3 linked regions of the Homo sapiens genome follow. The gene in region 2 interacts genetically with the main gene of each other region. Each region holds a gene or a part of one and is shown on either strand. Other genes may lie near its edges.

Region 1 (3,651 bases), on a different chromosome or scaffold from region 2:
TCCTAACTCTGGTGGAACGAATGGATGAAGAATTTACCAAAATAATGCAAAATACTGACCCTCACTCCCAAGGTGAGCCTGAGCAAGCGTGGGCTTTGCTGAGAGGAAAATTGTGGGGAATATTACTAGGTTTAGAGCTTTGTGAGGATTATACTAAGTCAGAGTGCTTGAAAAGCCAGCCTTTCAACTTACCTAGCGTTCACACGGAAGGGCCTGATGAGATGCTGGCTCCCAGTCCCATCGTTTCTGATTCCATAGGTCTGAGTGGGGCTTGAGAACCTGCACCTCTAGCCTGCTCCCAGGTTGCTGGTCTCAGGGCTATACTTTGAGAACCTTTGGGGTAAGGCATCTATTCACTTCTCTTGTTTAGCTTGGATGAGAGGCATTGGGGTGTGAAAGTGCAGCATAGTTTACTCAGTAAAAGTGTGAATGTGCCCATCAAGTCAAGGGTGTAGTGATTAACAAGGCAGCCAAAAGCTTACCTTTTGTGCTGGATGGAGAAAGGCAGATTGAAAAATAATAGTAGTAAGATATGGCCGGGCGTGGTGGCTCACGTCTGTAATTCCAGCTCTTTGGGAGGCCGAAGCAGGCGGATCCCGAGGTCAGGAGATTGAGACCATCCTGGCTAACACGGTGAAACCCCATCTCTACTAAAAATACACACACACACACAAAAAAAATTAGGCGTGGTGCTGGGCGCCTATAGTCCCAGCTACTTGGGAGGCTGAGGCAGGAGAATGGCATGAACCCAGGAGGCGGAACTTGCAGTGAGCCGAGATCACACCCCTGCACTCCAGCCTGGGCGACAGAGCAAGACTCCATCTCAAAAAAAAAAAAAAATAGTATGATGTTAAGATAATTCTGGGCCAGGTGCAGTGGCTCACGCCTGTAATCCTAGCACTTTGGGAGGCCGAGGTGTGTGAATCACCTGAGGTCAGGAGTTTGAGACCAGCCTGGCCAACGTGGCAAAACCCTGGCTCTACTCAAATACAAAAATTAGCCAGGCATGGTGGCAGGTGCCTGTAAATCCCAGCTATGTGGGAGGCTGAGGCAGGAGAATCCCTTGAGCCCAGCGGGCCAGAGGTTGCAATGAGCTGAGATCACACCACTGCACTCCAGCCTGGGCGAAAGAGTGAAACTCCATCTCAAAAAATAATAATAATAATTCTAGATGATATAAAGTTCAGAGTTAAACTAGGGCCCTGTGGTAAGAAGTGGCTGGAGGGGTGGCTGCTGTAGCTAACAGCTGGAGAAAGCACCCTTAAGTAGGGACCACCTGAGGTGAGATCCAATGAGGAGGAGTTAGGGGAAGAATCAGCTGAAGACAGCGCCTGACAGGAGGAGCAGAGAGCGAGCTTGATGTTCCAGGAGTAAAAAGGCCAGTGGGACTCCAGCACAGGAAGCCAGAGGGAGAATCGTGGGAGACCAGGCAAGGGCCAGGCCTGGCAGACCCTTATTGGCAGAGGTTGGCAGTTGGGATTTTTTTCCTAAGCTGTGGGACTGGAAGGTTCTGGGTCCTGGGAGTGGGAGATGGCCTTTCTGGGGCACACTGACTAGACTTTTCTGACGGGTGCAGAAGAGGGACGGGTTGATTGGAATGAGTGGGGACAGATGGGAAAGCCTGGCTGCCCAGCTGAGACAAGGGTGGGTGCTCTCCCTGCCAGAGTACGTGGAGCACTTGAAGGATGAGGCCCAGGTGTGTGCCATCATCGAGCGTGTGCAGCGCTACCTGGAGGAGAAGGGCACTACCGAGGAGGTCTGCCGCATCTACCTGCTGCGCATCCTGCACACCTACTACAAGTTTGATTACAAGGCCCATCAGCGACAGCTGACCCCGCCTGAGGGCTCCTCAAAGGTGAGCACGTGGCAGTCATGGCAGAGGGGAATGGGTGTGTCCACCTGTCCTCCACTTCTGTCAGGACTTGACAGCAAATCTGTTACTCTCTAGACTTCCGCAGGTGGAGCAGGGAGGGAAACTGAGGTATTAGAATGAGACTGGATAGAGTCTCATCTTTAGTTGCTAGAGCCTGTGCCTTTTAAAGCTGGATCTCCTTTGCAAATAACCTCCCTTCCTCCCCAGTCTGAGCAAGACCAGGCAGAAAATGAGGGCGAGGACTCGGCTGTGTTGATGGAGAGACTGTGCAAGTACATCTACGCCAAGGACCGCACAGACCGGATCCGCACATGTGCCATCCTCTGCCACATCTACCACCATGCTCTGCACTCGCGCTGGTACCAGGCCCGCGACCTCATGCTCATGAGCCACTTGCAGGACAACATTCAGCATGCAGACCCGCCAGTGCAGGTAGGATGGGGAGGCCTTGGAGGTGAAGGAGTGCCAGGCCCCTGGCCTCTTGGCAAACTGGCTTAACCAGAACAGCCACCTGTCTGGCCGGTGCAAATTTAAGTAGACACTTGGTCTTTCCCAGTTGCCAGCATCCTGCAGTCCTCCTGCATGTAAACACATAATTTCGTGTCAAAAAAAAAAATTATCCAGGCTTGGTAGTGCTTGAGCCCAAGAGGCAGAGGTTCCAGTGAGCCGAGGTTGTGCCACTGCACTCCAGCCTGGGTAATGGAGCAAGACTGTTCAAAAAAAAAAAAAAGCTGTGTCTGGAAGTGTAGATCATGTAAAAGTATATTTGAGGCAACTAGGAAATGTTTATGTGTAGAGCACCTGGTGAACCTGTCTGGGGGTACTGCTGGTTTTTAAACAGCCCTCCTATTTGTGTTTCTATTCTATGGTATGAACATATCACTGTGTCTGTTTTCCTCTTGGCGGACACCCAGTTTATTTCCAGTTTTTGGCTCTAATGTATGAAGCTGCTGTGAACATTCTTGTAAGAAACTCAAAAGTGGTTATACCATTTTACACTCCTGTTAGTGTTTGGGAGTTCCTTGTCAACTTTTGGTGGTGTTGGTCTTTTTTTGAGAGGGAGTCTCGCTCTGTCGCCAAGGCTGGAGTGCAGTGGTGCAATCTTGGCTTACTGCAACTGCCACCTCCCAGGATCAAGCGATTCTACCTCAGCCTCCCGAGTAGCTGGGATTACAGGTGCCCGCCACCACTTCCGACTAATTTTTGTAATTTAGTAGAGATAGGGTTTCACCATGTTGGCCAGGCTGGTCTCAAACTCCTGACCTCAAGTGATCTGCCTGCCTCAGCCTCCCAAAGTGCTGAGATTACAGGAGTGAGCCATCATGCCGGCGGTGGTATTGGTCTTTTAAACTTTTTTTTGTTTTTGTTTTTTGAGGCAGGGTCTTGCACTGTCACCTAGACTGAGTGTAGTGGCATGATCATGGCCCGCAGTAGCCTCAAATTCCCAGGTTCAAGTGATCCTCCCACCTCAGCCTCCATAGTAGCTGGGACTACAGGCATGTGCCACCATAGCTGGGACTACAGGCATGTGCCACCATGCCTGGCTAATTTTTTATTTTTTGTAGAGACAGGGTCTCACTATGTTGCCCAGGCTGGTCTCAAAGATCTTTTAGGGGTGTGTGTGTGTCTCTTTTAGGGGGTGTGTGTGTATCTTTTAGGGGTTGTGTGTGTATCTTTTAGGGGGTGTGTGTGTGTGTATCTTTTAGGGGTGTGTGTGTGTGTGTGTGTGTGTGTGTTTTGAGACAGAGTCTCGCTCTGTTGCCCAGGCTGGAGTGCAG
Region 2 (4,389 bases):
AGTGTTTTCTTTTCCTAAAAAAGGACTGCTTAAGTTGGTAAAGGTAGTCAAGGCATCTCTCTTTGGGGCAAACAGAAAGCACTTTACAGAGTGTAAGAAAATAAGAGGTCGGTGTGCCTCTGTTGCCTCATCTTCAATGTATACTCACAACATATGAGCAAATCAAATGGACAGGTGGCAAACCACTGGGTTATTTCTCACTTAAGGGCCTGGGAGTGGGAGAAACTGCTCCCAAAACATCTTTTTTGTATTGACTGGCACCCTGAAGCCCACAGGCCTGGCTTCTACGTATCGAAGAGGGGTCTTGTTCATATTGAAATTAACCCAGATAGTTTGTGTGTGTTTAAAAATAACATACTACTGCAATTTTATTCTAAATGTAGAACTTGAAAGTATTCAACTCATCTTAATTACGCCCAGATAAGCAGTTCCAGAATCCCAAATCCGGACCCTATTTCCGTTAAGTTTGTTTGCAGTTCTGATATCCCTAAAATAGTAATAGTTTTAACGGGCAGTGGGATAATAAAGGGAGGGAATGAATTTTTAGACAGGATACAGATTTGAGTTTAGTACTCAGTCGGTAAAGCAATCTCTAATCAAAACACCCTTGAAACTTTTTAAAAATCAGGTTCAGAATTTAAAGGAAGCTCTTAAAAGTCATATATATTTGCAAATTATATATGGCATTTTTCTGAATCAGTCTGGTGTCCTGAAACACAAAAGGTATTTACTATGATGGCTCTATGTTTGTCTTGAAATCCCAGTGCAGGTTTTCAAAAAAAGGTTTCATTATCTACTAAACTCTACCATGACAAAGATCTCCTTTTCACCACATAGTTCAATTTCCACAAGTGTCAACAACTTTACTGTAAAACCTAGCCTTAAGTCTGAACATCTATGTAACAATTATACAAAGCACTTGTCTCTCTTTAGGCATTTTTGTGGTGTGTTTTCAATACAAAATGTAATCCACTAGCTTTGGGGAAAAAAAAAAGGCACGCATTTTCAAAGAATCTTGTGGTATTAAAAAGAATCTTAAGGTTCTATTTTTCTCCTTCAATCTTTGTTACTTTTTGAACTAAATTTCATTTGCCAGGTCTTAAAAACTAAAAGCGTTTTTCATTGTGAAGTTACATGTACCTCTCGTCTTGAAAATCTGACAGACTTGGAAATTTCTATCAACTTTAGTTTTTAAAAATTATGTAAGCACACAAGATTTATATAACAAAGAACAATATTTCACTCTGATGTACAGAAACCTGAGAACTGGGGAAGCAACCCTACTTCTACAAGCAATGGTACCTACAGAATTTACATATATACATAGGGTGGGGTGTAACCCCTCAAAAGGCGCTTTGGGTACTTAGGGATTCAAGCAATAATTTGAAAAACAGAGAAAAAGTACAATTGTCTACCCATACTTACTTGTAAATCTTTCTTCAATTTTAGCAAATCTTCATTTTCTCCATTTCCAGATAATGCAGCTTCAACTTGCTGGAGCTGAGCTTTGTAGCTTGCCAGCTGCTTTGCTAAATCCTCTGACATCTAGGGAAAATAAAAAGGGTTAGACCATGAAAACTAAACCAAAAATCAAGGCATAAAAAACTAACTCCCCTGTCTGCCTGAATTACCAGTTTTTGCCTCTAACTCCTTCTAACACTGCAGCTTAATTTACCACCATTACCTTTACTCTCAGTTTAGACTTCAGCTAAACCACAAACTTAAAGGCAACAGATTCTGAGGATTATAAACTTGAGATACATTCCATACTTTAAAAAAGCATACAGATACAAAGAAATTTCTAATTTTCTTTTAACTCCTATCCACAGGGTAGGTGCTGAATTCGGCTCAATAATCAGTGTTATCTTTTTAAAAAGCACTACTCTGTTGGAAAAGTCGAAACTTTCAAAAACAATCCAAATACTTATTTTTAAGCACTACAGTATGCTTCCAAAGCCAAACAAGTGCGTTTTTAAATTAACTACACAAACTACGATCTTTACTTGAACTATTCAATTAAGAGTGTATTTAAAAGTGCCTCTCCAAAACAAAAATCTTTCGCCCAGTCGCTTAAATATTTATCGGTGCATTATCTTCAGCAAAAAGAACAGCACAGGTACTCTCCCATTTAGGCATTCTAACGAATGTGCCTTTCGCCAAATCCAGCTCAGTCATTTTCCTGAAAATAAGATACCAATTAACCTTTTTTGATGGTTTATAAGCAAATGTACCACGTTTCCGAGGACCCTTCTCCTTCGTAAAATTCCCGTCCAACCAAAGGCTGGGAGCCTGCAAAGGCCCCCTAAGAGTTACAGCGACCCAGGCTGCTCTCCTCCCCGCCACGCAGCACCTCAAAGCCCGCCACAACTCGATCATTCGGACGTGGAAATCCACACGCCAGCTCCAAGACCACCGCCGGAGCCCCGCCGCGCTCCAACAGGCAGGCTCCACAGGGAGCCGCGCGGCGCCCAGCCCCACCCGACCCGGTCCCCTGCGGGCCGTGTTTGCCGCCGCCGCACGGAGGCCAGCGCCGGCCGGGCCGCCGAGGCTCAGCTCTGGCTGAGAGACGGCCGTGGCTCCGGGATCCAGGGCCAGCGCCTGGGCGTCTCCGGCGAGGCGGGCTCCTCAGCCTTGGGCCTCCGCTTCACCTCGGGAGGGACCCGGGCCCGGCCAGGCCTTACTCTCTCCCTCAGGGGGGTTGTTACCTTGTGTGGGGCTGGGGGCGGGGCGGCGGGAAGGGGTCGGGGCAAATGAGCCCAGTGGTAGTGGCGGTGGCAGCAGCAGCAGTAGCAGTAGCAGGAAAATCACCGCGACGACAGCAAGGCGACCCGGTCTGAAAAGGAAGAACTCGGTCGGCGGCGAGGGGGAAGGGAGGAACGCCGGGCACTGGAAGGAGGAAAAGACAGAGACGGTGAAGTCTCGCGAGAAATACAAACTCTCGCGCGAGGTCGCTCGACTCACGTGACTCCGCGCGCCCTCTAGCCAGTCCCTGGCTGTCAGGGACACGAAGTAGGCGGGGCCTAGGAAGGAAATGGCGTAGCTGGGCTTCGCCAGGCGCGGAATGCAGGTTATCTTCCTGGAGTTCCGGCTTGGAATTTATTGGAAATGCAAATTCTCAAGCCCCACCCCAGACCTCCTGAATCCAGAGACTCTTGTTTTAATAAGCTCACCAGATGATACCAATGTCCGCTGACGTTTGAGAACCACTGCTTTTCCGGGGCGGTGGTGGTGGGTGGCGGGGGGTGTTGGTGGGGGCTCTCTTTACGTTGCCCTGGCTGGTCTCCAGCTCCTGGGCTCAAGCTATCCTCCTGCATCGGCATCCCAAAATGCTAGGATTACAGGCGTGAGCCACCGCGCCCAGCCTGAGAACCACTACTTTATATGATACAAGCCTTAGTAGTAACAGAAAGCTAATTAAATCGTGACAGAAATAACCTATTGGAGAGAAGATTGATTTCTTTAAAATCTGTTTTGTTAAAACCTACTTGGTTTTAATTTAGTTGGGTTAATCTCGCCTGATAGGGAACAACGTCCAAGTTAGTCTAGAATGGTAAAGAGTGGTAGGAATACTCACATTTGTGTTCAAAAAGAAATGCCCCTTGTGTATGTTTGTAATAATATATACGCTTTCTGGACGGATACACAAAACTGTTCAGAGGTTTGGAGTGGAAGCCAAATGTTTTATTGATTACCCTCTTTGCTGTTTACCCTTTTTCCTTTTCTTTTTTTTTTAAACCATATATATATAATTTATTTCAATTAAAAAAGCAATAAAGGCCTGAGACACAAAGTTTTATATAGATGACAGGAAGCAACCTTTCCTGGGAGGTTGGGAGTTTGTTGCTGGATCCATAAAAAGGCCCACTTCTCGCGGATCACCTGAGGTCAGGAGTTCGAGACCAGCTCGACCACGTGGAGAAACCCCGTCTCTACTAAAAATACAAAAAAAAAAAACCAACAACAACAACAACAACAAAAAGCCGAGCATGTTGGTGCATTCCTGTAATCCCAGCTGCTCGGGTGGCTGAGGCAGGAGAATCGCTTGAACCTGGAGGCGGCGGTTGCGGTGAGCCGAGATCGTGCCATTGCACTCCAGCCTGGGCAGCAAGAGTGAAACTCCGTCTCAAAAAAAAAAAAAAAGGCCCACTTCTCAGATGGGCTCTTTTGAACTGTGCCAACATCTTTAGTTCCTAGTTTTCTTTTCAAGGAGCCTTCCCTTTTGTTCTCTACACACACACACATAACCCTTGCAGTGAGTCAGATAACCTGTATAGATGGAAACTAGGTCGGGTTTGTGAGTGTGAAAGATTGAAATTGCAGCAGAGGGCAGCAGTGTGTAGCTAGAATTAAGAAGGCAGACAAAACAGAAAGCATGTGCTTTTAAATAAA
Region 3 (3,041 bases), on a different chromosome or scaffold from region 2:
GTGTCATAGACACAAACCAACAGCTGTCTTACAGATATCATATTCTGGTTCAGCAGAAATCAAGAATAGCTTTCATATTTTACTGGTCTACTAATATTCCAGGGAAAGGCTAGGCAGGATTCACATGAACATTTGTCAAGTTCTTAGATGTTAGTGTCTCAGAGATTACATACCACAAGTAAGCTGTAAAATCCTCATTTAACAAGAATGTGAAAGAACTGTGGCGTTCTAGGTATTTTAATTTTTTGAAAAGCTTTTTCTCTTGTATAAGTTTTTTTAATATTGTAAGTCTCTTTTCTATTAGGTTGTCTTTCTTTGCTTACTGAAGGGACTGGTGCCTTGGGGTCTTTATTCTGAAGATAAAAGATTTCTAGGCAGAACTACTGATGCAAAGAGAAGAAATCAGCCTGGATGTATCTGGATTATAGGATAGCTGCTAAAATCATGTTTGTGATTGAAAACCTAAAATAAGCTAATTTGTTTTTTCATGTACCTCTTCCTCCTAAAAGCTAAGTAAACAAAAAGACCCAGCATAAAAAGGATGAGAAGAGATTTTAGTTATTCAGTGTTTTCAGAGTTTCAACAAGGGATACAGATACAAGCAGCTTCTTACAGAGTTTACAATCTGGGGAGAGAACATGAAAGACACTGTTTAACAGGCAAATAATTCCAGGAATAAATATACATGAATGTGTTTTTCAAAATACAGGTTCTTATACAAATGTATAACTAAATACTGATTCCATAGTGGGGTGGTTGTAACTGAAAGGGCTTTGAGAAAAGGCTTTGAATAAAACTAGTCATCCACCTAGCCAAAGATCCTTTCCAGCAGCACAAAAGGAATTTGTAAGGAGAACAGAGATTAACTGTCAGATATCTTTCTAATCTGTAAATTTATCCAAAGTTTGAAAATACCATGAAGAATCTTAGGAATGCCAGTAACCAGGGAATGGGATATTTGCATATCACAACATCTACAGGCTAAATACACTCCGAATGCTTCTCAATGTGGGGAAGTATGAGAAGTTAATAATTCTCCTAGTGTCTGGCTTCCTTTTTCTTTGCCTTTCCCTCTCATACGTTCAATCACCTGTGTTACAGGACACACATAAGTAGTTGGAAGGTGTTAAACTTTGACAGCAAAGCAAAATCAGAGGTAGAGGCAAATGTTTAACCAATCATGTTCAAATATAAGCTACTCAATGAAGAGTTTTAGGTTTAAAGAGCGAAATATTCACCATTACTGAGAAATCTCAGTTTCTCATTCAATTTCGCATTGCACTTTGCTACCACAAACTAAATGGGTGTACATTTTTGAGTGCTGATTTATTACTCAAAGGTTTGAATTTGGAGACTGAAACAAACCATGCTTTATCTGTGTACTTTGAGAAAATCCATCCACAAGAAAGGAGCCAAGCGTCAGTTTCCAATGGGGGGAACATTCTCATGGAGGTACTGTAAGGCTAAGTCTGTCCACTTCATTTCTTGTTCTTTGACAGATTCTGTGGTGCCACCATTGTCTTGTTCAGGTTCAGGAAGCTCATTCTGAAAAGGTACAATAGAAATTCAGAACAGTAATATATTCTGCATCTTCTTGGAACTCAAGAACACTTAGAATTAAAGCTTGTGAGTTCCTAGGAACAGGCAACATAATTGATATGTGTATTCTAAAAAAGCTAAAATCATACACGTGAGGAAACTATCAGAAGTATCATTCAAACATGGCCCGGGCCTTCTTCAGTAGGGAATGATGGGCATTTTGACTCTGACATTTGTGAAGGAGGCACTGTGGCAGAAAGGTTAAGGGCAGAGGCTTTTGGAAGCCAACTAGGATCCAAGACCACAACTCTCCCATTTGCTGGGTTACTTGGGCAAGGTATGCAAACCCTTGGGGCCTTTGTTTCTTCCTTGGCAAATGGGAGAACAAAAGAGCCATCACCTCACAGGACTACTGTAAGGATTAGGTGAGGTAATTCAGATCAAGTGCTGAGCACTCTGTGGGGTATCCAGTGCTCAAGGAATATTTGCTATTATTATTAGCGGCTAGGAACACTGAGATGAGTGAATCCTAAATCTTCTTTAGCGGGAGCGTGCTTTAAAAGAATACTAGTTTGCTGGCATATTCCTTAGACACAAGAAATGTATCCAAAAAATTATCTTGGACCCAACATGTCTTTTTTTTTTGAGATGGAGTTTTGCTTTTGTTGCCCAGGTTAGAGAGCAATGGCGTGATCTCGGCTCACCACAACCTCTGCCTCCCGGGTTCAAGCGATTCTCCCGCCTCAGCCTCCCGAGTAGCTGGGATTACAGGCATGCACCACCATGCCCGGCTAATTTTGTATTTTTTTATTTTTTTTTAGTAGAGATGGGGTTTCTCTATGTTGGTCAGGCTGGTCTCGAACTCCCAACCTCAGGTGATCCACCCGCCTCAGCCTCCCAAAGTGCTGGGATTACAGGCGCGAGCCACCGCGCCTGGCCCAACATGTCTATATTATAATAAAAATGGAGGTAGGGCAGGAAACACTGAAAATGTAATTAATAGATAAGACCTCCCTCTAGTGGTGGAGCAGAGCAACAAAAAACACAACAAATGACCAATTCACACCCTACCAGCAATTTTCTTAAAATGGTAAGTCATGGGCCACACTTACTGTAGGATCTGGGATCATTTACTTGTATTTTAAGTTTAAATGTATTACTACTGAAACTCTGCTTTGTACCAGAGTTCACAGATACCAATATATTTCTTTTCAATTATCTGTGTTTTGTTTTATGGTTAGCAAACTGTTATGCGATATCCAGACTTAAAATTTTCCACTGGATTCTAATTTGTAGTATGTGAATATGTTTTCCCCTCTAAAATTATGCTCAATATATATTAAATGATATTTACTTATCTATATTTGAATCACATACATCTTGTTCTACAAGACAGATTCAAACATACTTGAACAGATTGAGAAGAGCTATCATTTATTGTAACGCAATAATATATTATCTTAAACTTAAAAAGAAAGTTCAGTCCTAATAATTACTTATAG

The links.
Region 1: changes in SMNDC1 (region 2) and EIF3C together harm fitness less than expected from each alone (positive genetic interaction), as found in Homo sapiens cells (one large-scale study listed by BioGRID).
Region 3: changes in SMNDC1 (region 2) and ANAPC13 together harm fitness more than expected from each alone (negative genetic interaction), as found in Homo sapiens cells (one large-scale study listed by BioGRID).

The regions. Positions count from the first base shown.
Region 1 is NC_000016.10:28,724,941-28,728,591, forward strand, and holds part of EIF3C (eukaryotic translation initiation factor 3 subunit C), read left to right. Parts: coding exon 1-72; intron 73-1,664; coding exon 1,665-1,855; intron 1,856-2,080; coding exon 2,081-2,305; intron 2,306-3,651. UniProt on the Homo sapiens protein: Component of the eukaryotic translation initiation factor 3 (eIF-3) complex, which is required for several steps in the initiation of protein synthesis.
Region 2 is NC_000010.11:110,302,043-110,306,431, forward strand, and holds the start of SMNDC1 (survival of motor neuron-related-splicing factor 30), read right to left. Parts: upstream 2,879-4,389; 5' UTR 2,706-2,878; intron 1,546-2,705; coding exon 1,426-1,545; intron 1-1,425. UniProt on the Homo sapiens protein: Involved in spliceosome assembly.
Region 3 is NC_000003.12:134,477,171-134,480,211, forward strand, and holds the end of ANAPC13 (anaphase-promoting complex subunit 13), read right to left. Parts: intron 1,546-3,041; coding exon 1,420-1,545; 3' UTR 536-1,419; downstream 1-535. UniProt on the Homo sapiens protein: Component of the anaphase promoting complex/cyclosome (APC/C), a cell cycle-regulated E3 ubiquitin ligase that controls progression through mitosis and the G1 phase of the cell cycle.